Linked DNA regions of Homo sapiens. The protein of the gene in region 4 purifies or fractionates together with the protein of the main gene of each other region. This does not show direct contact. Each region holds a gene or a part of one and is shown on either strand. Other genes may lie near its edges.

Region 1 (7,514 bases), on a different chromosome or scaffold from region 4:
CGAGAAGCCTCTGGTTTCTCTTAAAGGAACACTTCACAACAGAGAAAGCCACCTGGTTAGAGGTTACACAGATACCAACCATATAGACTTAACAAGCATTTTGAATGCAAGATCATTTCATTGATGTGTAGGCACATATTAAAACTGGGAAGATCCCAAAAGCCACCTCTCCTGCAAAACACATTCATCTAGGAGAAAACGCCAAAGCATCTGTCCTCAACTACAGGTAACAACCTTGGTTTCTTTGCCTTTGGCTGAAATCAGTGTTGCAAAAGCCTTTTAAAAGAGTAAGAAAATATAGGTTTTTCTCCCAAGATCACATTGCCCAAGTGAAACAGAACCAGTGCTTACTTTTATTTTTTGTCTCCTGTTCAGAGGGGTCAAACATTGCTCATAATCTTCATTAAATTTAGTCCTGTGGCTGGCAAATGTTAATTTACTGGAATATTTTCCTTCACATTCATAAAGAGGGAAAACTAGCTTTGTGATCTGGTTGCAATCTACACAACACATAGATAATCCACAACAGTGGTAGGCGCAGAAAAGCTCCAGCTGGTTTATCTCAAATGTTCAGAATGATTTTGATTTCTTTACCGACACCACAGCCATTCATAAAGATTCATTGCCAAATGTTGCCCAATACCGTGATAGAGGCGATGGTGAAGCGAATGTCTTAGACTGGGAAATCATCATGGTGCCCAAACCTCAGAGTCTGCGGCCAAATGGTGGGGATTTGGAAATCACCTGTCACGGAGATGGTGAAGGAAACTGGATTCAAACTAATGAAGACTAAAGTCTTTCCAGCCAGAAGACGGTTTGAGTCCAAGGGGCCATTTATATACAAGAGCTAAGAAAGGTGCAACTGATTTTCCCCCAGAAGCAGCACGATTATTTTTAAGTTCAAAGACATTTTTGTTAATAAACTGCTTCACACAACCACATCGAAGCCAAAATGTGCCAATGAAATAATCAAAACAAATAGCTCAATTGGGACTTTTTGAATGTTCAACAAAAAGAAAAATTAAAGCTGGTTAGACTGCTGGATAGTAACGTTACAGTGTCTCCTTTAAGAGATCAAAATGTCTTTGCCACCCTCCACCCCACCCTACCCCACCTCTAATAGTGAAGTGGATAATTTCTGAAGAATACAATGACCCTTTATGCCTGGCTTCTCTAGTCTGCTAGGGATGCCATCTGTCTCCCACGCTATATAAACAATCCCCGCAGGAATCTTCTGATGACCAAACAGATTAGCAAACTCCAGATTTTCACGCCATTAATAATATCCCCATCCAGATTAGGCCTTTTATTTTAATAACTCCAAAGATAAAGTCAATAACTGATCTTTCTTTCTTTGTAGATAATGTGTGTGTCATTTTAAAGATAACCTCTTGGAACATACAGCCATCTGTTGGGAAGAGAAAGAAAAAAAGCTCTCTCAAAGCAACAGAAGAAATGAACCCTCGAGGGAATAGGAGAAATAGTAAAAAGAAAATCATATTTATAAGACAAACACATGGAGAGCTCTACTAATTACACTAAAATATTCTTCTTCTAAATGACAAACTATAGAACACTACTCCAGAAAAGACAAGTTTCACACTTTCACAAAGGTATATATATACGAAAACAGTTTGCGTGAGTCTAGGACAGTGAAAGCAGAAATCATAACCCAAAAGCTAAAGGCCCCCGAAGTTTGCATGCTGTCCACCTCTATCTGTAATGATCACAAATGTTTTCCTTCCTGAAGTTTAATATCGATTGAACCCTTGTAACTCTAATTGTGAGCTCTCTGTACTGACTCCAAAGACTTCTAACTCTAAAAGAAATGTGCCTGTAAAGATGTTCTCTAAATTAATAATAATAAACGACGAAAAGCACCCGAGCGCTGCTAATAGTGAAGACAAGGCATGAGAGAGTCAGACCTCTGCAGTCTCGCGTCCTCGGAAACGTCTACGTCTAAATCTGCAGCCCCAGTTTGCTCCAGGCCCCAAGCTCCAGCAGAGGATGTTCACGGCACATTCCCAACCAAAAAGGAAATGAAGCGTCCTCTCCCTCAACTGATGCTCAAATAGACCCCAAAGTCCCAGTTTCCCTGGAGAACCAAACCATCCAACACATCCTGGGCAGCGGAAACCGAAATGGCAAATGAATGACCGCGCCGGGGCGCAAGGGAGGAAAAACAAAGCCACCTCCCGCCGTCCGCTACCTGCGGCGAGGGCCGCGCGCTCACCTGGGCTTTGCGCCCGTCGCCACAAGCTGCGGGTGGGGACCCGGCCGCGGGGCGGGAGGGCGCCCCCAAAGTCGCCCGGACCCGCGGCCCCGGCGCCCTGCGGCCGGTCCGTGCGCGCCGAGGAGAAAGCAGGCGGCCGGGGGCGCCGCCGCGCGTTGCATGCAGCTCACGGCTGCTGCGGCCGCTGCCACGGAGCCGAGAGTCTCTGCGCTGCAGTCCCCGACCCCGAGACCGCGAGAAGCGCCCGGAGAGACGCGGCGCAGGGGCAGAGCGCGCTCGGCGCGCCCCTCAGCGGCTCTTCCCGCCGCCCTCCGCAGCGGGCTGGGTCTCGGCTCGCCTTTGTGCTGGCATCTTCCTAGCTCCCAGCGACACCCAGAGCTCTCGAGGCGGCTCCGCGCCGCCACCCACCCCCGGGTTACGCCACGGCCCCCGCGCGACCCGCCGATTGTGTCGAGTCAGCAGCGGCAGCGGGGACGCGCGAAGCCATGGCTCCCGCCCGCGCTCGGGAGGGCGCCGGGGGTCCTGCGCCTCCGGGAGGTTTGTGGCCGAGCGCGGCGCGGCCCCGAGCGGCCCCGCAGCGCCCGGCTCCCCGCCGCTCGCTCTCCAGGCGCCGACCCGCCTGCGTCGCCACCCTCTCGCCGCTCCCTGCCGCCACCTTCCTCCCGCCCGGGTGCCGGGCGTCCGCTCCAGCCGCGGTGCCCCGGTCCGCGGAGAGCGAAGAGTCCGGCCTCCTCACCTCCAGCCGCGCCGGCGCCCTTCCCGCTAGACGCTTCGGCGGCATCTGCCCGCACCGCCCTGCGGGACGCTGGGCTGGGAGCTGGCGGCACGTCGGGGACCGGTGGAAGGGAGGCGGGGGCAGAGGACAGGAGGGACAGCCAGACCTTGGCCAGCGGGACCTCCCTGAGGAAGGTGCGGAAGAACGGGGCGGGTGCGGCTGGGCGGAGGACGAGTCCCGAGGCTGCGGCGGAGCCTGAGTTGCTCTCCTTCTGCGAAGTCGAAGGACAGGAGGATTCCTAGAGGTGTCGCGGAGGGTGGAGGAGACCCTCTGAGGTCGTGCAGACAACACTGTTCCTCAACCCCACCAGAAAGCTGAATAGGGGAGTGTCATGCCTCGGTTTCCCCAACTGCAAGGGCAAGACGGTAATACTCATGTCGCACACACAGGGTGTGGTCACGATGAAAAAATGGATTATTGAAAGCGTTCCCAGATACTTTGCCTAAAGAGGGCACTAAAATTTAAAATTACTGTATTAATACTTTCGGCTTTCTGTTTACTTCTATAGCATCTTCATCAACCAGTCCCACGTAGGAGAAAAAGTAAAAATGCTAAAGTGTAAATATATTGTGTCCCTCCCCACCCACCCTTGCATCTGTCCAGATTTAGGGAAGATTTATTCAATTTTACAATTTAACTATATCCATATGGAGTAAGTCCCCAAATAATGGATAGCCATTCCTTTGGGACTTTTGAGTGTGTGCTCAATATTATCCATTTCTCCGCCTTTTCTGGTAACAGCAGTTCATTATTCCTATGGGAACTGCCCTTCCCCCTCACCCACAATGAGTCTTTGTGGCTCCAGGGTACTGACACCTCCCACCCTCAACCCCCAGAACTAGCCAGTCATCTTCCGGACCGCAGTGATCGGTTCTGGGTTGGGCATGTTGATCCAGGAACTCGGCCTAGGGCTTTGGATGTATTACTGCAGAAAAATAAGCTCTTTAAACTAGGATAACTAAATTGGAAGGATATAAGCCTACGGTAACAAGGACCAACAGTGCATGCCAATGAAGCCAACTTTGAGGGAAGAAAAGCTGCTGGTGAGAGGGTGATGTCCCACCCTCTCAGGAACCTCAGGAGGTAGATGTGTCTGCAGTGAACTCTACCCTTGAAGCCAATAAATCCTCTCTCTTTTATTTCAAGTCAGTGTCAGCTGTGTTTTGTCACATGTCTCAGAGGAGCCCTGACTTCTTAGTCCCCTGGATCTATCAGCCCAGGCATCACTGTTAGGATCCTCCACAGAATCAAAGAGCCCCACCCCACAAAAGGCCCAATTCCAGTTCTTGCTGGAAGAACAGGGATCCTAGAGGTTTGTTCCCACATGATGTTCTCCTTCACAACTTACTCAAATCCAGCAACCCCACACCTGCAATCCTTAGCTTCTTTGTGTTGATTAACCACTATGTTACATTCTAGTCAAAATGGGCCAGGTGCAGTGGCTCACACCTGTAATCATGCCTGAGGCAGGAGGATCTCTTGAAGCCAGGAGTTTAAGACCAATCTGGGCAACATAGTGAGACCCCACTAACACAGGAACAGAAAACCAAACACTGCGTTTTCTCACTCATAAGTGGGAGCTGAACAATGAGAACACATGAACACAGGGAGGAGAACATCACATCAGGGAGGAGGGGCCTATCGGGGGTTGTGGGGCTAGGGGAGGGATCTCATTAGGAGAAATACCTAATGTAGATGATGGGTTGATGGGTGCAGCAAACCACCATGGCACGTGTATACCTATGTAACAAACCTCCACGTTCTGCACATATATCCCAGAACTTAAAGTATAATACATTAAATAAAGAAAGAAATAAAAATAAAAATAGCCAGGCATGGTGGCCTGAACCTGTAATCGCAGTTACTCTGGAGGCTGAGGCAGGAAGATCAGTTGAGCCCAGGATTTCAAGACTGCAATGAGCTGTGATTGCACCACTGCACTCCAGCTTGAAGACAGAGCAAGACCCTGTCACCTTGTCAAAAAAGAAGAGGAAGAGGAAGAAGAAGGAGGAGGAGGAGGAAAAAGAAAGAAAGAAAAGAAAAACAGAAAAAGAAAGAAAAGAAAAGAGGAGGAAGGGAGGAAGGGAGGAAAGGAGGGAGAAAGAAGAACCCTAAAAATGAATAGAGGCAAAGTGAATCACTATTGCTGCCCTAGGTCTTAAAAAACATTTTTCTCTCACTTTAAAAGCAGCCCCTACTACCTTTAAAACTTTCTACATATCGACCATTAAAACCGAGACTAAGGCATCAAAGAACATTAATAGCAAAGTCATCCTAAAAATCTCAAACTTGCAAAGGTGTGTAAAGATTAGGTAGGTTCTTTCACACTGCACTCCCCGTTCGTCATCACCACCACTCTCCTTCACAAGATCTCTGACCGGGTCTCACTTATCCTCTCCTGGAGCCATTCCCTTAAAGAGAACTCAGTACTTTACAAGCTGGTCAATTCTGCATTGAAACTGGCCTGACATTAGGAAGTGATCCCTTATATTGAGTTGAAATATTTCTTCCACCTGAGAGTACTCCAAGCACTGAAGACAAACTTGTGAACCACTTGAATTGTCTCTTTTCCAAGATCTTTGCATGACCCATAAGTCATGCAGGACACATGGCAATGTGTCCTGACCCTTCATCATCCTAGGTTACTTCCTTTCTACAGATGTGCCAAGGTTTGTGACTGCTCCTTCTAAAGCATATGGCCAAAGCTAAACCCAAAGGCAGATTCCAAGAAACTTATACTCCAGCCCTCTTCCAACAACACAGAAGGAGCCTGAGAGACATGTTCATGTGGTCTTATATTTTTATAAAAGCTTCCAAAGTAAGATATTTTAATCTCAAGCGATTTGCAGTGGACTGAATGTTTGTGCTCCCCCAAATTCATGTGTTGAAATCCTAACCCCTAATGTGATGGTATTAGGAGGTGGGGCCTTTGGGAGGTGATGGAATAAATGCCCTTATAAAAGAAACCCAAGAGAGCTCTCTCACCCTCTTTCTGCCTCTTGAGGATACAAAGAAAAGATGGCAGTCTGCAACTGGAAGAGGGCCTTCCCACCCACATCACAACCACACTGGCACCCTGATCTCATTCTTCTGGCGTCCAGAACTGTGAAAAATAAATTTCTGTTGTTCATAAGCCACCCAGTCTAGGATGCTTTGTTATTGCAGCTTGAATTAAGACAAGACTGCTGTCCCTTTTCATTCTAACTTCCGTGTTGTCCTAATTCCCCTTGTTCCGAAAGAAGTGGAGTGATTGTGGACATTTGTGGGGATCTGGCTAAAGGGAAGTTGAATTGGTTAAGTGGAATACATTTATGTGGTCTGTGGGCATTAAAGTTGTGACAGTGATGTCTATTTTGACTGTGCAAAGACAGTCACTTGGGCCCTTCAGTGTTGTGACACAAAGGTAAAGGGATGGAAATTATACCACCAAGTATTAATAACTGCATACTTCAGCACCCAGCACAGAAGTATATGGGTAACGGGGTAAATGATGTTTGAAATGTATGTACGGATTCAGAACTAGAATATGGAAAACCCTCCCACATCTTATTGTTTATATGTGAAATAAATTTAATAGTGATTTTCCTAAATTTTGAAACAATCCTAAAAATATGTTACTTTCCCAATAATGCATTGTGGACTGAAAAGAAACTCCTCTAAACTATCAGTAATAAAAACAAATTTTAGTCAACTTTACTAGTGAAAACACTGGAATATCTATTAACTCTATAGAACATAATGTCACAAAATCATTTTCATATGAAGAATAAATCAAAGAGTATAAAGCCAAAATACGTAGGAAAGACATATCACAGAGGTATGTCAGGCAGTTAATTAATTTAAAGATCGTGGTATTTTTCTGTATTTGGTGATCTAATACTTGTAAGGTTGTTTTGTTGTTGTTGTTGTTGTTGCTGTTTGGTTTTTTTTTTTTGAGATGGAGTGTCACTGTCGCCTAGGCTGGGGTGCAGTGGCGCGGTCTTGGCTCACTGCAACCTCCGCCTCCCAGGTTCAAGCAGTTCTCCTGCCTTAGCCTCCAGAGTAGGTGGGATTACAGGAACCCACCATCACATCTGGCTAATTTCTGTATTTTTAGTAGAGACGGGGTTCAACCATGTTGGCCAGGCTGGTCTCAAACTCCTGACCTCAAGTGATTCACCGGCCTCGGCTTCCCAAAGTGCTGGGATTACAGGCGTGAGTCACCATGCCCAGCCTTATAAGATTTTTTGAATGTGCGAATTGTTGTGATTTTTTTAATTCTGGATATATATTCTTTTCAGTACCTCATTTTGTATGTATAATGTGTATTTTTTTTTTCTTAAAAAGTGTCTTGAATTGGGAGTTCAAGACCAGTCTGGCCAACATGGTGAAAACTGTCTCTACTAAAAATACGAAAAATCAGCTGGGTGTGGTGGCAGGCACCTGTAATCCCAGGTACTCAGGAGGCTGAGGCAGGAGAATTGCTTGAACCTGGGAGGCAGAGGTTGCCGTGAGCCGAGATCATGC
Region 2 (7,131 bases), on a different chromosome or scaffold from region 4:
CAACCCACCTGCCCCTGAGCAGCCCCTTGTGAGTGAGCCCAGAGGCCTGAACCAGGATCTTCAAGGATCGCCCTGCCCTCATTAATGGTGGCTCTTGCTATCCGTCCCCATCCCACCCACGGTGTGCCAGGACCCGACCGACCTCTCAAAGGCCACATTACGAGTGTCCAGGTGGGTGGAGACGATAGGAGAGGTGAGGCGACTGGCCACATGCTCCTCGCTGGGCCGCATGGCGGCCAGCAGTGTTTCGGGCTCCTGCAGAGTGAGCCCCAGTGTCTCCACATGCACCACCTGCCGGTCATGGTCCACTTCCATCACCAGGGCTCCTGCCTCTGCCGGCCGGTAGGGGTGGACAGAGGGGGCGCAAATCAGTGCTGGGCGCCAGCAGTGCAGAGAGGGCGATCATGTACCCTCAGCCACCTGCTGCCAAGTGGGTCAGTCTTGGCCCCTGGATGCCCCTCCATCCCCAACCTCAGCTTCCACATCTGGAAAGTGGAGAGAAAAGGCAGCACCGTCCTCCCAAGCCGCAGGAAACCCAAGGGCCGAGGAGCTGCAATGAGTTTGTCCAGAGCTCACCCTGGCCCTTGAAGATGAAGCTCCTCCGGCCCCGCTGCCAGGTCATGTGCTCGAAGCCCAGGAGACTGGTGTCTACTCGCAGGCTCTCACCCCGCTTCCACACGCGGTACACATCGCTTGGGCACATCTTAGACACAAGGGGCACTGCAGGGTGCACAGGGGTCACTGGGGGTCTTTCCAAAGGCCCCACCCCAAATCCCTGGGAGCCCAGAGGTCCCCACTCACCCCAGCTGGTGAACTCCCACTTCATCTCAACGTAGAAATCGGGGGCCTAAGAGAAACCAGAGCTGCTTGTCAGCGCCCTGCCTGCTGCTGGCTCCAGCAGGCCTGGGAGCCCCTTGTCCACAGCCAGCCCAGCCCTTCATCAGGTCTTTTTTTTTTTTTTTTTTTTTTTTGAGACTTGCTCTGTCACCCAGGCTGGAGTGTAGTGGTGCAATCTCGGCTCACTGCAACCTCTGCCTCCCTGGGCTCAGGTGATTCTTCCACCTCAGCCTCCCGAGTAGCTGGGACCACAGGTGTGTGCCACCACTCCCAGCTAATTTTTGTACTTTTTGTAGAGACGGCTTTCACCATGTTGCCCAGGCTGGTCTCCACCTCCTGGGCTCAAGTGATCCGCCCACTTTGGCCTCAGAAAGCGCTGGGATTACAGGAGTAAGCCACAACGCCTGGCCCTTCATCAAGTCTTGACGCACTGCTATGGCTCAGCTACGCCCAACCACTCTGCCCTGGAGAGGGTGGGCCAAGTGGGGCACTACAGTGGTCTTCAGACAATGAGGCTGTAAGCACCTGGAGGTGGAGGGCCAGCCTCAACCTGGCCATGAGCCTGTGCAGAGCCCTGGGGGAGCCTTTGTTTCCACTGGGTCTCAGAGTCCTACTCTGTAAAGGGGGCACAGTGGCTCCCTCCGAGCCTGCTCCTGGGGTAGGGGGTATGAGATAGTATGCTCTGCCAGCCAGGCCCCTCCGTGTGCTTCCAGAAGGGTGCGTAGTAGCAAGTATTCCAGGGTTTCAGGCCATAATCCACCGAGTCAACCTGAAGTCCCTGCTCCAGGTAATCTGCATTCTTCAGGAGGCCCAAAGCTGGCAAGGCTTCTCTTCCAAAGGGTCCAGTCTCTCCCACGTGAGCCTGGCCGTCTCTCTTTCCTACGTGACCCTGGGCTGGGGTCAAGATAGACAGACCTCCTTGCTGGTGGCAGGAGGCACACTGCACAAACTGGGTGCCTTTCCAAGGCCAGGCCTGGCACAGTAACCAGGGTGGTGCCCTGCCATGGTACCCCACCTCCATAACTGTGCCCTGCTGTACCTGGCGAAGTTTGTTGAGCAGTTCCGGAATGCCCGCCAGCCTCTGCGTGGCCCTCTGGTAGTCCCGATACTGGAGCACCAGCTGCACCATCTCGGGGTCTCCAGTGCTGACTGCCTCCTGCAGGACTGCGGGCACCAGGCTGCTGAGGGGAGCCCTCCAGATGACCCCAGGCCTGGCTGCTCACTGCCCCCCGCCTGCCAGCCTCAGGGGGAGCCCCTTGTCCTCTGCAGTACCTGCCCAGCCCTGGCGGTTCTCTTTGCCCACGTTGGCATTGTGTCGAAGGAGCACTCTCACAGACTCCAGGTTTCCCAGAGACACGGCCAGCTCCAGTGGGGTCCGCCCGCGGGGGTCCTCCTGTTCAATGTCGTGCTGGGGGAGACGGGACACTCACAAAGGGCAGGAGAGAAGAGGGCAAGGCAGGGAGGCTGCCAGGGCGAGCAGGGTTGGGAATCGCTGTGGGAAATAAGGACGGCGGACTGACCAGGGAGATGGCAGAGGGTGGCCTGCGTGTCCTGGCAGGGGAGAGGAGGGGGCAGGAGGGAAGGCAGGGGCAGAGCCGGGGTCTGGCGGCGGGGCCTGGTCAGGCAGAGCTGCAGGTTGTCAGGAGTTTGGCGGAACCTGGGGACCAGGACCAGAGTTCTTGTTCTCAGCTTGGGTCAGCAAGGATGCGGAAGCGAGTTCGGGCGAGCAGGGCAAGGCCCAGCGCAGGGGAGAGGAGGCCAGAGGCTCAGGCGCGAGGGGCCGGTGACCTGGGCTTGGGATCGTGCAGGGGAGGAAGGCCCAGGATGTGGCTGCGGAGCTGAGCGGGCGGGGGGGGGGGGGGGGCTCCAGGACGGAGGCCACAGCCTTGGGTGGGGGACCCGGGGGAAGGGCCGGGTGCCCCAGCGGGGCCTCACCTGGTGGCTGTGCAGTGCGGCCTCCAGTTCGCGATGCCGGTTCGCCCAGACGAGCCGGTGCAGCGGGAAGGTGGGGCCCGGGCCGGCCATGCTGGGCCTCAGCGCCGCATCCCGGCCCCGCCTCGGCTTCGGGCCTGGCACGGCCCCCTAGCCTCCCCTCCGAGCCGCGCCCCAGCTGCGCCCCCCGCGGCCCCCGCAGCAGTAGCGGCGGCGGCGGCGGCGGCGGCAGCGCGGGCGGCAGGGAGGGCGGGGCGGGCGGCGGAGCGGGCGGGGCTGCGCCGGGCCGGGGCGGGGCTTCGCGCGCGCCCCCGTCCCCCCGCAACCATGGCAACCGCGGCCAGGCCAGCGCGCGGCAGAGCAACCGCGAGCGCCCGAGGAGATGCCCGGCCTTGGGTCTGCGCCCCGACCTCGGTCGGGCCCGGGTCCGCTGGGGCGGCCTGGAGGGCGGTGCCCGGTTACAGCTCCGCCCGCGGCCCGCAGGAGGCGCCCCGAGCCCTGCGCAGACCCCCGGAGCCGGGTCCGGAAGAGGAAGGCGGGGCCGGAGGGGGCGGGCACTGGGCCCCTCGGTAGTGCACGCGCGTGCGCGGCGGGCCGCGGTCCTGCTGCAGCCGTGATGCCTGCGTTTCCCCCGCGGATCCCCTTGCTCGCCCCGGTCTTCCTACCCCAGGTCCCGCGGTCACCGACTCTGCTGGGGTGTGCGGGTGAAGTGGGGCGCCCCGGCTCCCCTCACCCGGCCTGGAGACGAGCAACGAGCAGACGCCACTAAGTGCTTGCCGGCTGAGCGGGAAGCACCTTCCCCTGGGACCTGGCCGGTGTCTGCAGGCCCAGCGATGCGGGGAGGCGGCCCCCGGGGCCCTGAAGTCAGGGATAGGAGTTCGGGGAGAGAGGGGCGCAGGCCCAGGCAGCGGCAGAGCCGTCCCGGCGGAGGACCGCCCGCGGCGAACGGCTGCCTTCGCCCGCCGCACGAGTCCCTTTTGCAGAGGCTGCGGTTGGCTGCCAGCGTCAGGAGAGGAAGGCGAGTTTCGAAATCAGGGCCGGCCCCTCCACCCACACCGGAACTAGGGTGCAGGCCTCCGTCAGCTCAGTTCCGGCCCTTGATTACTGGAGGCCCAGCCTGGGGTCTGGGGCCCTGGTTTTGCTAGGTGGCCAAGGCTGACCCTCTATTCTCCCTTTCCCTACGTGGAACATGATTGAGGAGGGCCAGCTAGCTTGAGCATCACTTCCTGCTGTAGGGCGTCCTCAGTTCTGAGACTCTGGGCTGGAAGGCCTGATTGCCATTTTTACCCTGCCTTCTCCCTGTAGTCACATGGCGCCTGTGCCATCTGGGGTCACTTTGCCACCCCACGCTATGGTGTCAATCTGTGAGGTCCTGGGGTTGGTAGCAGCCCGAAGGCTTCTGAATGCCCAGAGCTCACCTGCTCACCACTACTGCAGCCCTCCCTGGCCACCCCTTTTCTCAGAGGCGGTCCCTTCCCTGAGCCCTCTCCAAACTCAACCCCGACAGGACTTTCTTGGTTCCAGCCTCTCCTGATTTCTGCCATCTTGAACACAGCTCCCCACTGGCACTTAATTCCATGACAGTGCCTTCTCAACCCTCTTCCACGGCCTCCTCTCTCTCCCTGACCCCCACATCCCTGGGAGAGAGACTGTCCGTTCCCATTGTCACCCTGATGCCACCCCCAGGTCCACATTTCAGCTTACTCCAGGACATCTCTGTGCCCAGGGATCCCATGCTATCCCATCAGTATGTCCGAAGCCAACCCAACCACACCTACCCTCTTCCCCAGACTCCCGCCTCACTCAGCCCCAAGTCCAGCCTGTTTCTGCTGGACCACGTTCTTCCCGTCTGGCCTCTTTTCATCTCTTCCTCTCCCACTGCGGAGGTTTGTCTCCCTGCCTCCTGTCCTTCACCTCCCTCCCCACATCCTGTACTCAGTAACCAGGCAATCACTTTAGAGCCAGCTCTCACCACTCTCAGCCCTGTTCCGCACCTTCAAGGGCTCCCTGAGCATGGCAGGTCTGGACTCCATGTCGTTTGTATCTTCATTCTGCAGGCCCTGAGCACACACCTGGCTCCGGGATAGGTTAAGCCTGGCATTCAGTGCCTCCAGGCATGGCTCCTTCCTATAGTCCTCCGGCCAGCCTGGGCCACTCATGAGTCCCTGGCTCTTCCCTGCCTCAGAAATGTCCTCCCTCCTTCCCACACCAATGCTGGAGGCCTGGCTCAAAGGCCATTGCCCCTGACTCTTGTATTCAGCCCTGAGTACCCTGCCCAGCTGCCTGCCTCCCTTCTCTGCCTGGCATGCTGTGCTTTGGCCATGGGCCCCAGCCATGCCCAGCAAAGCCCTGTGTGGAGTGGGCAGCAACATGTATCTGTTTAGTCACCCGCGGGGCTAGGGCAGGGACCTGGGGAAAGGGAAGTTGACCAGAAGCCTCTGGGTAGAGGAGAGGCCTAGTGCTGGGGTTCCCCTCAGGCCTCAGGGACCCCTACTAGGGCTGTGCAGTGAGGCCAGAGAGGAGGCTGAAGCCAGAGATGGCCAAGGGCCCAGAGGCTGCGGTGTGACCTAGAGGGAAGAGGTGCCTTGTGACTGTTTCTGGGGAGGGGCCTCAGCTTGGTGCCTGCTGTGCAGGGGTGTTCTGTGGGCCTGAGACGGTCCCAGTCAGCCCAGACACTGTGCCAGGCCTAACACTGTTGGCACCTCCTCCTGCTTACCTGGGAAGTGGCAGAAGCTGCTCTCTCCTCCCCGGGAAAAGGTGAGGAATGGGCACTGGACAGCCACTAGGTGGAGAGGACTGTCAGCTGGGAGGGGTAGGAGGGGAAGTGGGACCCACTGCCTCACCCCACCTGGAAGATGGCCTGGGCCCGAGCAGACCACCTTGGAAGCCATGGCGGTGGAGGAGACCTGGTACCACCGAGACCCTCCCCATCAGGCCCCAGCCCAGCAGAAGCTGAAAAGGGGTCACCAGGTACAAAAAGAGTCTGAGACAGCCGAATCAGGCACCATTTTTTATAAAAACGCATAGTCTCATTTTTCACTCTTTAAAATCACATTCAAAAATCGGCAAAGAAACGCCCCGGGGAATGAGTAGACGGGAGGGGAGGGTGCGCCAACCCAGCCCCGGGGGGGAGAAGGCGCGACACCACACAGGCAGCGCGACTGGCACGAGGGGGCATGCGGTGGGCGAGGCGGCGGCACTGACAGGACGTGGGCTGTGGGGCTGGCCAGCCTGGGCGGGGGTACACTGATGGGCCAGGATGGGGGGCACACTGATAGGCCCCAGCCAGCCTCCTTGCTGTGCTGCCCGCCCACCTGGCCGGCCCCGTCCTGGGCAGATGGGGTCGCACCCAGCCCAGCATCAGCGAGACCTCAGGCCAGGCGAGGCCAGTATGGCCCAACCTGCAGGTGCCTTGCTGTGGTCCCTGAGCCCGGGTGCTGGGGGTTGGGGCAAGAGGGGACAGCAGGGAGGGTAGCAGCACCTGCTGCCAATGCCACTCTCTCAGCCAAGCCCCGCAGTGTCAGGGAAGTGGGAGTGGAGGCAGCCAGTGACACAGAGGCTTTTCCTGAATAAGGGCACAGGAGCCCGAGTCACTGTGGGAGGCCTTGAGGGCCAGGGAGACAACGGGCCCCTCCTCTCGCCAACACTGTGGAGCAGGACAGTGCAGGGCCTGCCCCTCTGCAGCAGGAGGGGGTGCAGTGGGAAAATTCAAGTCGGATCCCTGTGCTGTGCCTGCCCCTGGTGAGGGGGGATGGGCCACCCAGCAGTGCCCATGGGCACAGAGTGCAGCCCACAGAGCCCAGGGTGGCACAGCTTGGTGTGGCATCATCCCTCGGGGAAGGGGCGGGAGGGCTGTGCTCTTCCCCCACAGGAAGACACTGGGAGCGGGCAGCCCCTGAAGTCAGGACAGAGGGCGCCGGGCAGCGGCTGGGTTGGTGCAGCAGGAGCCGAGGCAAGCGGGCCCCTCCCGGGGGAGCTGGGCCAGGCTGGGGCCACGGGAAATCACAATAATTACAAAATAAAACCTTTTCCGCTTGGCGGGAAAACAAATAATAAAAATTCGACAAAATAAATTAGAGGTTTATAAAAGGCGGGTGGGCGGGTCAGAGGCCGTTGGCACTGCCGCGCTGGACCAGCGGCACCTTGCTCAGCTCCACCACGGGCGAGCGCGGCTTGTTCTTCATCTTGGGCACCCGCTGCACCAGCTGCTGGGCCTCGCGGTAGGCGTCGCGCAGCTCCTTCTTCCACTGCACCAGCTCAGGGTCGCTCTGCACATGCCAAGCCCAGCTCTGTCAGCTGGGGCTCTCCCCAGCCTGCCTGGCCTGGCCCCTCGGCCCTCCCATCCCTGGCTCAGCCCCCACT
Region 3 (7,020 bases), on a different chromosome or scaffold from region 4:
AGAATGGTATCTAGAGACTATCTAGGTCAAATCTTTCATTGAGCAGATGGAGACATTTAAACTTTATTTTTTAAATTTTACAAATGAGAAAACTAAGTCCCTGAGAGATTAAATGAATTTCCCAAGTTCAGATGACTAGTTAGATAATTATTAATTACCCACTACAGTTACCAGGAGAAACTGACATTGAATTCTATCTTAAAGATGATATTTTGCCTGGCAACCCCTAAGAACTGCAGAAGAAATTTGAAGCTATTCCCTATGGATGGAAGTTATAGTAAGGAAAGTACAAGTTCATGTGCCCAGATGGGTTGAAGTTGTTTTAACATATGGAGATGCTTGTGACGTAACAGATCCAATGGAGAACAATAGGATTATTCTATCTTGAACTGCAAATTTTAAATATAAAATGTAAAATTTGGGACTTAAAGGTCATGAACAGTTTGCAAAGACTAGTCAAGTCTAACAGAGAAATGCTCTCCATTTCAGAAGTTGAGAGGCACTGAAAACACTGTGTTATCTCTTCAAGATCACATGGTGAAACTATTAGTCAAAAAAACAAACTAAAAACCCCCAAAAAACCACCAGTTTTTAGAGCAGGTGTCATATTGGTCTTTGTTAACACTGTAAGGCACGGAGTCGGGAAAGACTTTAGATGTTTACACACAAATTCATACTGACCTGCTTAGACTTGATAGGAAGAGTTAAGACACAGATTTTAAAAACTAAAGCTTACTTGGTGGAAGAGGCTCATCGATTGTTGGGTAGTGATGATGTTCAGGCCTCAGGGAAGGAAGCTGGCTTACTGGCTGGGAATTATGGAGTATAGGACATTCACCTACGGACAAGATAGTCAATACATTCAGATTCATTCACTGCCGTGGCAACATCATCAAAAAAGCATGACTGTAAAACTAAGCACTACAAGAAACAACCCCAAAGAGTGGGAAATCCATTTGTGTGTGTGTGTCAGTTTGCTACATTCACAGTCATTCGTGAGGGGGGAAATATTTTTTTAAAAAAGAAGAAAATCAAAACACTTCATAACTAATGATCTGCGCCACACAGTCCAATATGTAGGATTTGAGTCTGATTCTGTAATGACCCGAATTTCCTGAATCAGAAAGTGGCACCAGAAAGGAACACAAGAGAAAATTAGCAGAGCCTGATTTTAGCCCAGTGGAGGAAATAGGCCTGTTTGAGGGAAATGCAGCGTTTTATAAGGTTCCACAAAAGTTCCTTGGGCTTATGCAAAATGACACCTCCTCACTTGGATAGGTTTCATCACAGGGCTGCCGAAAGGCTGTTTTTCAGATTTTTGAGGGGAATGAACTCTTAGATGGTACCAAGACAGGTCAAGGAGCTGGCGAGCCAAGAAAGTAAATTCCTGTAGTAGGAAAGCTGGAGGTTGGGGGGTTGGGGAGGGGAGCCAAGGGGCTGAGGGATCTCAGGACTGTCCAGATTATTTTGAGGAGAAATCAGACAAGCCAGGGTGCTCCGGAAAGAGGAAAGGACAAGAGACAAAGGAAGTAGATAAAAAGCAGAAAGACGGCGACAGGAAAGCTCAAAACACAGAAATGGGAAAGAAGGAGGAAGAAAGACAAACATGGAGAAAGTTTAGAAATAAACATTATATCCACAGGATGCATGCCTCAGATTATTAAAAGAAAACCTACAACAGACATAGCTTATACTGTTCTCAGTTCGGACTTATAATGAACTGAACGATGTTCTGAAGTGGTGTCCTCAGGCATGTAGAGCAGCCATGCAGAAGGCAGGCCTGCAGCACCAGCTGCTTGGGTCACATAATCAGAGGCCAGTGCTCTTGATCTTTGCAGAGTGAGAAGGGCCCGGGACAAAGGATGGCCCTTTTTTCAGATGGTTCCTCCTGCCTCACACCATGCTGGTTTTCTTGCAAAAGCCTTTAAGGGCCAGAGGGCAAAGGTCAGGCCTTTTCCTTCTTCTGTCCTCTGCTGATGCAAATAGCAAGTGTTCCATTATCCCTTGGGTCAAAAAGGAGAGAGACTGAAAAATGGTGGTCAAATGGTTGTAGGATCTCAAATGCTGAATATTTCCTAGAATATCCACACATGGAAAGGATGGTTATTTCTTCTCACTCTAGTTCTACGGAACTGATCAAAAATAAAAATAAATTAATTAGGAAGAAAGGTGGGTTTAATTTTGTGATTTAATTCCTAGAGCTCACTGGCAAACAGAAGGAGAGATATATTCAGGAACAAAGGGTCCTTTTAAATGTTAAATATAGAACATTATTTGTTGAGCAAATTCTGCTATGTTACTCAAATCCTCTGGGTCCTTGGAGATGCTAATGGAAAACAAGGAAGGTTCCCCTCATGCCGGCACCCAGTTCATTGTGGACAGACTGCTGTTCCAAAGATGGGCTCTGTGTTTAAGTGGATACCACACTCATGTTTGTTTGTATACATGTTTAGTGTCAGAAATTAAACAAAACCATGGTATAGTTGTTATGTCATCAGCTGCTGCATTTTTAACTTAGTTTCTTTAAAATCAACAATAGACTTACCTCTTGAAATTAATGCAACCAATCAGGTTAATTACTCCTCCAAGCTAGTGGAAATACAACATTGTTGACTGCCTGGGGTTAATGCAGCTGATCCCACCTGCTTGTGAACCCCAAGCAAATGCAATGATGTGACCAACATGTCTCAGCCGACTGAATGGATGGAGGCACTGAAGAAGCAAGCAGTTCTATTCTGCACAAGGACAGGGTTCCACATCATCACCCTTGCCTCAAACACAAAGCAAGTGTTGAAACCCGCCAGAACCTCCCAGAAAGAGATCTATTCCTCAGCTAAAAGCAAGCAACGTCGTTTTAAATTCCCTTCTATTTATAAATAATATAACCTAATTGTAGAGAAAGATAGGTTGCCTTGCATATTATTTGAAGCAAAGTGATTTATACCTAATAATGTGAAAATTTCCCTTGAATTATAAAGTACAGGAAATGCAAATTCAAAGGATTGTTTTAGATGCTTTATACAACATAATATAAACAGTTACCCTCACTGCTTGTCTGCCTGGAAGAACCCTCACTTGGTGGGAAGCAGAGTGCTTTTGTAGTATCATCTCATTAAATTTTCCCAACAACACTTTGAGGGAGATTCTGTAATTATACCCATTTTGCACATGAGGAAACTGAGGCACAGAACAGCTAGGTAACTTGGTGAGGAAGTGGGAGGAGTGAATATAAATCCAGGAGGCCTGACTCCAGGGCCTGAGCTCATAACAATGACATTATGTTACTCTTTTCATTTATCTGCAGAAGGTCTTTCAAGAACTATTTTAAATTAAACTTTTAAAAAGGAGGTATTTATAGAGGGAAATAAAGCAAAAAGTATGAAAAGAATACTAGCCTGTATAGTTGTCAGTTCAGACTTAGAACAGTGTTCCTCTATAAATTGTTGCAGCCTTATCTATGTGGGCACGTGGACAACAAATCCACCTGGGTTAATCTAATGCAGTTTTTTTTTCTCTCTCTCTTTTTTTTTGAGACAGAGTTCTGCTCTTGTTGCCCAGTTGGGAGTGCAATGGCACGATCTCAGCTCACTGCAACCTCTGCCTCCTGGGTTCAAGTGATTCTCCTGCCTCAGCCTCCCAAGTAGCTGAGATTACAGGTGCCCGCCACCGTGCCCAGCTAATATTTTGTATTTTTTTTTTTTTAGTAGAGACAGGGTTTCACCCTGTTGGCCAGGCTGGTCTTGAACTCCTGACCTCAGGCAATCCACCCACCTCGGCCTCCCAAAGTGCTGGGATTACAGGCGTGAGCCCACACACCCAGCCGTCTAATGCAGTTTCTACAGTAAAGGAATTTGCAATCTTAGAAGTCAAGGCGAAGGAGCAATAGGGATTTTTATGGAAGCAGAGGTCACCCACACAATCACGTATCAGGCAGGTCATGTTAAAGCCCTGCTTTCTTGAAGCATCTGCTGTTGTGAAGCCTGGTGGCAAGTGAAGGACAGTCCCACAATGCAGACACGGTTAGCCTGGGGACTCACTGCTGAGGCGGGGAAGGATGGCTGGGAAGAAGTCACATGCCAGCGTGTGCATGGCCTTCAGCAGATCAAGAGACCCCTCGGGAATCTTTTTATTTCCCCTTGTGATCGCCATAGTGAAGCATGTAGGTGCTTCTTAACCTTTTCTGAGTTTACACTCTGCAGAGTTCAGGAACTTAGATATTTCTTTAGAAACTGCCAGTGCCAATTCAGAGATGTCCACTGTGACCCTGAAACACTTCCTGCTCTTCCACCTGCTAGACTGTTGGCCTCTAAAGGGCAAGGATGTGACTTTTTTGTTTGTAAAACATGATCTTATATAAATTTACATTGAGCCAAGTTTCAATTGACCATGTGTAGATTATCTCCCAACATGGGGGCCAAAAAACTGTGCACTAAAACAGGGTTGTATGGCTCTGAGCTAAGAAAAGTGTCAGTACACTTTTTAATACAAAAAAAAAAAGCTTTTTAGTGAGAACAGTTATTTAGCTTTTTACCTCTTGACCCACAAAGCCTAAAGTATTTACTATCTGGCTCTTCACAGGAAAAATCTACAGACCTCTGTAACCCAACATCCCTGCCAGCTCCTATGTGTGCCTTTTATGTGGGAATCCCCCAATCTCCTTTTGTTGTATTATTTTAATTATGCTGTAATTATCGAGTAATGTCCATACATCACCTGATGCCACTCCATCTTCCTGCGCCCAGTGCATTACATCTGGCCTAGAATAAAGGAAGTCCTCGAAACATCCTTGTGAAAGAAAGGCATTTCCCATTCCCTTCTACTCACAGGAGGGATTTTCCATCCCGCTCCTTGTGGGTACCTTTCCATGCTGTCTGTTTTACCTTTCTGCCTGTGTTTCTTTTTCTCTACCAATTTCCTTGCGTTTCTCATTATTGCATGTGCCACCTTCTCTCACTCTTTTTCTGAAATGTAGAAGCGGGCATTATTGAATACTTAAAATTATTTTTTTTAATGCTCACTTTAGCTCCTGTTAAAAAAAAAATTTGTAGGCACCAGGGGTTTGTTTAGGTGCTAAGAATTCAAACATAAAGAAACACAACTCTGGCCCTTGATGAGCTTACAATCTAGAGAAAATATCCCCGCCTTTTGTTGGAGGCTAATTTCAACAGCAGAACAGCAAAATAGCAGAGGCTATGTTTTTCTCTTTTAAAACAACTGAATTATTTCATATTATTATGTGACTTTTCAATTTTTTTTCCCAGTCATACCACTGTCACTTGACTGGAAGACAGTTTCCACTCCTGGATAAGGAAATGCAAATTAATTTCACATATAATTCCACAGGCATGACTAAGAAAGAACATCTTTGGTTAAAACACAGAATACGTTTTAAAACTAATGGTGGCAGCTTTTGGATTTGATTCTTATTGGAAACAAAGTCATTTATACACAATCATGTTATTTTTCCCTTCCATTAGCCAAAATAGCCAACAACAACAACAACAACAACAAAACAAAACCAACAGTAATAACAAGAATTGAGTGGACATAAATAATGACAAATATATGTAGGCTAGACATATCTATATGTACGTACATGGGCTAGTTGAATTCTAAAACAGAGGTAAAATCTGTTCTTCAACTAATATTAACATCTATTGCTAATCTTCCATGTGCTTTGAAAGTCAGCAGATATTTACACATTATCCATTTAATGTAGATAGATTTTTCCCATGTATATCATTTGATACTAGTCTTGGGGCTCTGGCTGCTGTTAAGACTAGGATAACATGTACACTAACCAGTTCTGGTGATTAGTTAAAACAAACATAGAAGCACACATACAAGTGCACGCTCACATCCAACCAGTCGTAATTCCTGGTGTGTATCTGAGACATTGTGGGGTGTCAGCTACTCACAGTCATCTATGCTCATACACAGATACACATGCACACATGTATATACAAGACAGGCATACATTGCCCCAGCAACCCCGTTTGACACCGATCCCCCGCCCTTCTTGTTTTTAAACTGTTGGTGACACCTTTGTCCCCCTGATGGTCCTATTCTCACTCTGATCAGGTTTGAGGTCTAACCTTCTCTCCGATTGCTTGGACCTGCCACGGGGGATTCCAGACCTTCCGGGCTTCTTTCCACGTGCCCGCTAGGGGCGGCCAGCTCGTCTTGCCACGGCCCAGCGCCGTTCGTGGACTCCGGGTCCAGCTCAGGGCTCTGCATGGAGTCGGGTACCGACTCGAACGCGCTGTTCTCCTCCTCCTCGTCGTCTTGCGAGGAGAAGACCGTGCTCTCGGAGATCTTGGCGCTGTCCACGGAGGAGAAGCGCGTGTGGCTGGCGAACCTGTTGCCGTTGTAGCAGGAGGGGCTGTAGCACGAGGCGCTGTAGCACGAGCTGCTGTAGCAGGACGTGCTGTAGCACGAGGAGCTGTAGCACGAGGGGCTGCAGCAGGACGCGTCACAGCCCTCGCAACTGTGGTCCCCGCCTTGCCTGGGGCTGGAGTCGCTCTCGCTCCCGGTGCTGGGGTGCGTGTCGCCATCCTGGGCCGCGCCATTGGCCAGGCTGGGGAAGTGGCCCCCGGAGTGGCCAGGGTGCGCCGTGCCTGGAGTAGCCCCCTCGGGCTCTTCTCTGTCCTCTTCCAGGGCAGACGGGTCAGCGGCCACCGTGTCCACCTCGCTGAGCCCATCCTTCTCCGAGGAGTCCTTGAGGGTGGACTCCTCCTCCGCGCCGTCCTCCTCCTCTGCCGCGCTGCCGCCCTGGGCGGAGGGCATGCTGTGCAGCAGGGTGTGGATGCGGATGTAGTGTGTCCGCGGGGTCTCGGGGTCCCCGCAGGCTGACGCGATCACCGTCTCCAGCTCGGACACAGGCAAGGAGCAGGGCCTGCTTTTTCTCTTCACCGAGGCCCGCAGCTGCAGCCTGCCCTCTCCCTGCTCCAGGGTAGACACATCTCCCTCCTCCTCCTGCTCCTTCTCCTCTTCTTCCCTTCCAGCCCGGCTCTGGGTCGT
Region 4 (7,366 bases):
GGTTCAAGCGATTCTCCAGCCTCAGTCTTCCGAGTAGCTGGGATTACAGGCACCCGCCACCACACCCGGATAATTTTTGTATTTTTAGTAGAGATAGGGTTTCGCCATGTTGGCCAGGCTGGTGTCAAACTCCTGATATCTGGTGATCCTCCTGCCTTGGCCTCCCAAAGTGCTGGGATTACAGGCATGAGCCACGGAGCCCAGCCTAATTTTTGTAATTTTGTGTGTATATATATATATATATATATATATATATATATTTTTTTTTTTTTTTTTTTTTTTTTTGAGACGGAGTCTTGCTCTTGTCGCCCAGGCTGGAATGCAGTGGCACCATCTCAGCTCACTGCAGCCTCTGTCTCCCCGGTTCAAGCAATTTTCCTGCCTCAGACTCCCAAGTAGCTGGGATTACAGGCACCCGCCACCACACTTGGCTAATTTTTGTATTTCGTTTGTTTGTTTTTTGAGATGGAGTCTTGCTCTGTCGCCCAGGCTGGAGTGCAGTGGCACTATCTCAGCTCACTGCAAGCTCTGCCTCCCAGGTTCATGCCATTCTCCTGCCTCAGCCTCCCGAGTAGCTGGGACCACAGGCGCCCGCCACCACGCCTGGCTAATTTTTTGTATGTTTAGTAGAGATGGGGTTTCACCATGTTAGCCAGGATAGTCTCGATCTCCTGATCTCAGGTGATCTGCCCTCCTCAGCCTCCCAAAGTGCTGGGATTATAGGCACGAGCCACTGCGCCCGGCCCGATTTTTGTATTTTTAATAGAGACAGGGTTTCGCCATGTTGGCCAGGTGGGTCTTGAACTCCTGGCCTCAGGTGATCCGCCTGCCTGGGCCTCTCAAAGTGCTGGGATTACAGGAATGAGCCACCGTGCCCAGCATAGGACCTTCTTGACTCTACCCCACCATCCAGTCCCATTCTCTAAAGCACCCTCTCCTGGTCCCAGACCAGCATCACATACTTAACTCACTCCCTGCCATCTCCCCTTCTCATCCTCCCCACTAAACATCCATTCCTCCAATAGATGAGGATAATAGATAACCCATAGCCCCTGGTGCTCAAAAGCCAGATCTGTAGCCATTGTTCCCTCAGGCAAGTCTCAGCACACACACCCCTGCCCCCACCATACCTGCGTGCCCTGGCCCCTGCTCCCTTCTCACCGTATGCACGAGGTCCAGGGAGAAGATTTGGATGCAGCAGACAATAGCAGAGAGTGTACAGATTATAGCGGCACAAATGGTGAGCCCACAGACGCTGAAGAGCAGGTTCTGGGGAAGGGAAAGGAGGAGAGGAGTCAGGAGACGGCTAAGTTCCACACATTATGGGCCTGTGAGTACCCCAGCAGGGGAGGCAAGAGTGAGAACCAGGAGGATGTTTGCAGGGTGCAAGCTCACCTTGAGGGCCCCTCGGGCTTCATCACAGGTGGAGTTAGGGGCAACTTTCAGTTCCTGCCCCGACTCTGGACAGGGCCGGAGGAGGGGAACAGAGGGACAGCACACACAGACCTTTCCTTCCTGAGTGGAGCAGGGAGGGTGAGGCAGCCTGAGTCAGGACAAACTGAGGTGTCCTGCACACCTCCCCCAGCCAGTTCTTTCCAGCTCTCCCTCCTCAAATCTCACCAGAGAGCACTGTTGGAAGTCTCGGGCCAGTTGAGCATTCTTACAGGAGAGAACAGAGCCAGCCATGCTAAGCATGACACAGAGCACCGAAAGCAAGGAGAAGAAGGAGATCTGGGGAAAACAGGGTGCAGACTCAGGGCTGGGACCCTCATGAGTACTCCTCTGCCACGGACAGAGTCCCCCTCCTTCACAGACACTTCGTGCCCACCCGGCTGGCACCAACTGGGGAGCCAGTTCCCTTCTTGAGGACATAAATGGGCTTCCCCTTGCGTGCTGGGCACCTGCCTCCCAGTGGGCACTGGACCCTGGCACCTACCACTAGAGTGAATGGCCGCTTCCAGGACACAATGCCAACCACCCCGGAGAACGCCAGCTGGGGACAGAGTGGGCACAGGCTCAGCCTGGCAGGGGAGGCTCCTGAGTGAGCCCCTCACCACAGGATGCACCCAGCCCTGTAAGGAGGCAGAGGACCAGGAGAGGGAGGAGAGGCAAGCATGTGGACTTGCAGCTGGTGTGGAGGGTGGGGCCCGAGGAGCCTCCCCCACCCAACAACTGTGCACCCAACTCACCGAGAACCCAGCCCAAGACGGGCAGGACCTCTTGATGCTCTCGGTGGTGGTGACGGAAGAGGCCACCATGCTGAAGGTGACCACCAGGATGCCCAGGAGCACTTGGACCAGCCCCAGCGTAAGCAGGGCCTGCAGCCAGGGTCGGTGGAGGCGGAGGTGGGTAAGGCCCCTGGTGCTGGGCCGGCTGGTCAGCGAGCGGCTGGAGTCACTAGGCGAGGGCATCATGCCTGCTGCCCGGTTGCCTGCGCCTCGCTCGGCCCTCCCTGGCACTTGGGAGCATCTCAGAGGCGCCCAAGGCCCCGTCCTTTCTCCTCTCCACCCCACTCGCTCTAGAGCCCACCCCCTGGCTGGGTCCCCTGGGGCATGGCCGAGGGACGCCAGCTGTGGGGGGGGCCAAGCGAGGGGCGTCACGGAGGGACCGCGGAGTGCTCCCTCCCCACCACGGGCACTGGACGGGCACCGTGCCCGGGGCGACGATGAGGACGCGGGGGCACCGGCTCATCGCATCTCCCTAGGGAAGAGGGGCACCGAGAAGGGCCGGTCCAGGAGTGAGGAGGGGGCGGCGGCCTGGAGCCCAGGGAGGGGTGGGGAGGGTAAAAGCGGGAAGGATGGAAATAAGTCTAGAGAAGAGGGGAGGGGTCGGCGTGGGGTGACTCTAGAGGCGCGGTCGGTGTGCCCTCAGGGCGTCCAGTAGGATCCGGGGCCGCCTGGTGGGGAGAGGCCGCGGCGCCGCTGTCTCCTGTGTCGCCTGTCCCGCTCCCCTCCCCACCACGCTCCGCTCCCCGAGCTCCGGCTGCCGCAGGTCGGGGACTAGAGAAGGGGGATGGGAATGGGGATGGTGCGGGAAGGAGGGGCATGGCGGCGAGGGCCGGCGCGGTGCACCCCGGGAGTTGTAGTTCGGGACTGAGACCCTGTCGGGGTTGGGGGATCCCGCGGCAGGGCGAGGCAGTCGGATAAGCGCTCCTCCAGTCCCTGCCTCGCTCTGGACCCTGGCTAGGCTGCTAGTGATCCTTTGGGCCTCCACTTGAGCCCCATCCAGCTTTTCAGGCTCCAGGCCCGCGTATTCCTTGGCGTTCCCGGCAGAGGCGGTGGCTCTTCCCCGTCATTAATGGAGAGGGGTGGGGAGCAGGGCTCCCTGGCGTCTCCGGGTTTCGCGTTTCCGTGGACTTCCCACCTCCTTCCTGCGCCAGCCACTCGGGCTCCACCGCCCCGCCCCTCATATCTCCCAGTTTACACTAAAGCCGGGTCCGACCTTCCCACCTCACTCCACACTCTCCTTTCTCTTTCATAAGGCCTAATTCCCAATGAAGATTCAGGAAACGGGGATGTCAGTTCCAGTTCCACTTTCTTTTTATTTAAATAACCGAAGCAACAGCCGTGGCACAGCAGAGGGAAGCTGGGTTGGGGCGTGTGAGAGGTGGCAGCAGTGTGGCCTGATGGGGGGACTAGGTCACAGTGAACTCCCCACACGCCTGTCAGGTTCAGCAGTCATGGCCATAGGATTGGGAGCACTACGGAGGAGCCATCAGTTAGTGATGTCTCTCCAAGTCCCAGAGACCTTAGGGACGGGAGCTAAGTCAGCTCCCTCAAGTAGCAGGGCCAGGGCATCCCAGTCAGGGGTCACGGGGCCCGGAAGGCATTTTCAGCAGCCCCAGCGGCTGCATTGGCAGCTGCGGTTCGCACCGCAGGGTTGGAGAAGACACCAGCAGCAAATTCTTGCTGGGCCTTCTGAAAGCTGGCACCTGTGCGGCGGTATAAGGAGTGGATCTGCAAGTAGAGGACAAAGACATTACCGCCCATTCCAGCCACTGGTTCCCCACCCCAGCCTAACAGCATCACTACCACTCAGCAGCCTGCTGCCCAGCACACACACTCACACACAGAAACACACACCCCAGAGGTCCATTAGCTGAGAACAACCCAGCAGCCTGACCTGTGCCAGTTGCTCCTGAATGTTCCACCCACGCCCCTGGGGACCCATGATCTCACCATCCCGGCCCCACCTTCGACACAGCCCTCACCCGTTTCAGCATGACAATTCCTAGCACAGCAATGCCAGTGAAGAGCAGGGCGACCAGCAGCATGAGCACGGATACTGCTGTGTTGCCCTTCGGCACCACCAGAGCAGAGATCCAGCCACTGTAAAGGGAAGGATGTACCAGTGAAGAGGGGCTCCTCAGCTTCTCCACTGGTTATGTCACCAGCATCCCCTGTTCCTACCCTTCCCATCAGCAGTGGCTCCCTGTCAATCGAGCAGCATTCCAAGCACCACAATCCCAAACTGTATCTAATCTCTTCATAGTTTAATTCCAGTTTCTGAACCATTAGCCCTGAGCTCTCCAAGCTCTTCCAGGCACTCATCTGGGGATTCTTCTTCCTCCTTTCAACCATGGTTCTATGCCTCCTCCAGGAAGCCACCTTAGATTGGCCAAATGCAGCATTCTTCCCTTCAATCTATATGTGTCAAGAGTGCTGTCTGCGCTCTATCCTGGAAGTATGTCTTGTATCTCATTAAACTAGTACCTCCCAAGGATTAAAACCACATTTCCTTTTTCTGAACAACTCCTATCCCAGCACCCAGTGCTGGCTGGATCTAGAGGGAAAGGTGAGGGTGGATAACAGCCTCACAAACCTGAATCCCCAACCTGGGATACCAATGGCCTGGAGGACAAAGAGCACATCCTGGACGAAGAAAATGAAGAAGAAAACGAAGAAATTGAATGAACTGTCACTCCTACAAAGAGGAAAAAAATGGGGAGGGTGGGAGAAGAATTAGAGCTGAAGGATGGGCAGACGTGGGGCCCATCCCAGGTCTCCATCACTCTCCCACCACTAACACACTTACCGGAAAGCCTTATACATGGGGCGGTACCAGCAGACAAAGGAGCAGGGAGTGAAAAGGAGGACCCAGAGGATAGAAAGCCCAAAGCCTGCGCCATTGTTGGTTTCCACACAGAAGCTGGCCAGGCAGGCGAGGAAGTTCAGGAGAAGAGCCAGCGTGCTGCCTAAGGGGCAGAGGGACAGGATGAGGAGCCCTTCTGGACTGCAATGAAGGCTCCTTCCCATCTATGCTCATCCTATAATATTCACCAAACATGGCAGAGTAAGGAAATGAAGGCAGCTGCTGCCTTCATGGAATCCTCAACAGGGGAGATGGAGAAAGCAAATGTCAATAATGTGTGATCCCCTTGCAAAGACATTTTTTTTTTTGAGACGGAGTCTGGCTCTGTCGCGCAGGCTGGAGTGCAGTGGCGCAATCTCAGCTTACTGCAAGCTCCGCCTCCCCGGTTCACGCCATTCTCCTGCCTCAGCCTCCAGAGTAGCTGGGACTACAGGCGCCCGCCACCACGCCCAGCTAATTTTTTTTTTTCTTTTTTTTTTTTTGAGATGGAATCTCGCTCTGTCGCCCAGGCTGGAGTGCAGTGGCAGGATCTCGGCTCACTGCAAGCTCTGCCTCCTGGGTTCACGCCCATTCTCCTACCTCAGCCTCCTAAGTAGCTGGGACTACAGGCACCCGCCACCACGCCCGGCTAATTTTTTGTATTTGTAGTAGAGACGGGGTTTCACCGTGTTAGCCAGGATGGTCTTGATCTCCTAACCTCATGTTCTGCCCACCTGGGCCTCCCAAAGTGCTGGGATTACAGGTGTGAGCCACCGTGCCCGGCCTTTTTTTTTTTTTTTTTTTTTTTTTTTTTTTTTTTGAGATGGAGTTTTGCTCTTGTTGCCCAGGCTGGAGTGCAATGGCATGATCTTGGCTCATTGCAACCTCCACTTCCCGGGTTCAAGTGATTCTCCTGCTTCAGCCTCCTGAGTAGCTAGGATTACAGGCATGTGCCACCACGCCCAGGTAATTTTGTATTTTTAGTAGAGATGGGGTTTCTCCATGTTGATCAGGCTAGTCTCAAACTTCTGACCTCAGGTTATCCACCCACCTCAGCTTCCCAAAGTGCTGGGATTACAGGCGTATACCACTGCACCCAGCCCAAAGACATCTAAAGAATTCAAAATATATTCCTGCATATGGACAATAAAAAGTGGGGAGAGGGCAAGAACATTTGCTAGCAGGCTGGTGAGTTCTAAATAGAGGTGAAGTGTTTGGTTCTTGGTGAGCGGACCCCAGGGCAGTTAAGAGATCTACCTGTAACTTCCTCCAAAAGGCTTCTCACTACTCACACATCCAGAGGTAGTACATGGTGGATACAGTCTTCTGAAATTCTTGGGGGATCTCCATGGAGATGTCCTGGAAAAAGCAGGGCTGAACTGGACAAAAAGAAGGTAGAGGGGGCCAATTGTTCTGTCGAGCTGTAAGGCACAAAAAAACAGGTGGACCCCAGAAGTAAAACAGAGACCAACAAAGGAATCACTCCCCCTTCTCTCCATCCCTGGATCCTCTCTTTTTTTTTTTTTTTTTTTTTTGAGATAGGGTCTCTGTTGTTCAGGCTGGAAGGTAGTGGTATGATCATGGTTCACTGTAGCCTCAACCTCCTGGGCTCAAGCAACCCTCCCACCTCAGCTTTTTTTTTTTTTTTTTTTTCTCCTGAGATAGAGTTTCGCTCTTGTTGCCCAGGTTGGAGTGCAGTGGTGTGATCTTGGCTCAGTGCAATCTCCGCCTCCCGGGTTCAAGTAATTCTCCTGCCTCAGTCTCCTGAGTAGCTGGGATTATGGGCACATGCCACCACGCCCAGCTAATTTTTGTATTTTTAGTAGAGACAGGGTTTCACCATGTTGGCTGGTCCTGAACTCCTGACCTCAGGTGATCCACCCGCCTTGGCCTCCCAGAGTGCTGGGATTACAGGCATGAGCCCCGGCGCCTGGCCGTCCACCTCAGCTTCTTGAGGAGCTAGGACTACAGACAGGTACCATCATGCCCTGCTAATTTTTTTCATTAATGTTTTGGAGGCAGGATCTCACTATGTTGTCCAGGTTGGTCTCTAACTCCTGAGCTCAAGCAACCTGCCTGCCTCGGCCTCCCAAAGTGTTGGAATTACAGGCGTGAGGCACCATACCCAGCCCTGGATCCTCTCTTTTATCTCCAATTTGGGGTCCAAGGAGACAAGTGAGAGTGGAAAAATTAATACTGTTTATTATTATTTAAAACATCTAAGCACTGTACCAAGTACTTCACATATATTTTGTTTAACCTTCACAACAACCCTGTCAAACGGATGCAAACGTGG

Evidence for each region.
Region 1: the proteins of ENTREP3 (region 4) and HECW2 purify together in Homo sapiens (affinity purification with mass spectrometry; 4 studies listed by BioGRID and IntAct, with this or other methods). This does not show direct contact.
Region 2: the proteins of ENTREP3 (region 4) and ANKRD13D purify together in Homo sapiens (affinity purification with mass spectrometry; 3 studies listed by BioGRID and IntAct, with this or other methods). This does not show direct contact.
Region 3: the proteins of ENTREP3 (region 4) and HECW1 purify together in Homo sapiens (co-immunoprecipitation; 3 studies listed by BioGRID and IntAct, with this or other methods). This does not show direct contact.

What each region holds. Positions count from the first base shown.
Region 1 is NC_000002.12:196,590,539-196,598,052, forward strand, and holds the start of HECW2 (E3 ubiquitin-protein ligase HECW2), read right to left. Parts: upstream 3,017-7,514; 5' UTR 2,970-3,016; intron 2,446-2,969; exon of another isoform or gene 1,926-2,445; intron 1-1,925. UniProt on the Homo sapiens protein: E3 ubiquitin-protein ligase that mediates ubiquitination of TP73. Acts to stabilize TP73 and enhance activation of transcription by TP73. Involved in the regulation of mitotic metaphase/anaphase transition.
Region 2 is NC_000011.10:67,285,192-67,292,322, reverse strand, and holds the start of ANKRD13D (ankyrin repeat domain-containing protein 13D), read right to left. Parts: upstream 3,021-7,131; 5' UTR 2,863-3,020; coding exon 2,773-2,862; intron 2,658-2,772; exon of another isoform or gene 2,246-2,657; coding exon 2,110-2,245; intron 2,016-2,109; exon of another isoform or gene 2,002-2,015; coding exon 1,877-2,001; intron 848-1,876; coding exon 802-847; intron 721-801; coding exon 577-720; intron 333-576; coding exon 143-332; intron 1-142. Other genes in the region: GRK2 (beta-adrenergic receptor kinase 1), read right to left, coding at 6,873-7,037. UniProt on the Homo sapiens protein: Ubiquitin-binding protein that specifically recognizes and binds 'Lys-63'-linked ubiquitin. Does not bind 'Lys-48'-linked ubiquitin.
Region 3 is NC_000007.14:43,444,646-43,451,665, reverse strand, and holds part of HECW1 (E3 ubiquitin-protein ligase HECW1), read right to left. Parts: coding exon 6,096-7,020; intron 839-6,095; coding exon 737-838; intron 1-736. UniProt on the Homo sapiens protein: E3 ubiquitin-protein ligase that mediates ubiquitination and subsequent degradation of DVL1. Also targets the mutant SOD1 protein involved in familial amyotrophic lateral sclerosis (FALS).
Region 4 is NC_000001.11:155,252,464-155,259,829, forward strand, and holds the start of ENTREP3 (protein ENTREP3), read right to left. Parts: upstream 3,021-7,366; 5' UTR 2,415-3,020; coding exon 2,190-2,414; intron 1,994-2,189; coding exon 1,937-1,993; intron 1,732-1,936; coding exon 1,621-1,731; intron 1,516-1,620; coding exon 1,396-1,515; intron 1,270-1,395; coding exon 1,162-1,269; intron 1-1,161. Other genes in the region: SCAMP3 (secretory carrier-associated membrane protein 3), read right to left, coding at 3,810-3,956, 4,211-4,328, 4,822-4,923, 5,035-5,194, 6,363-6,491.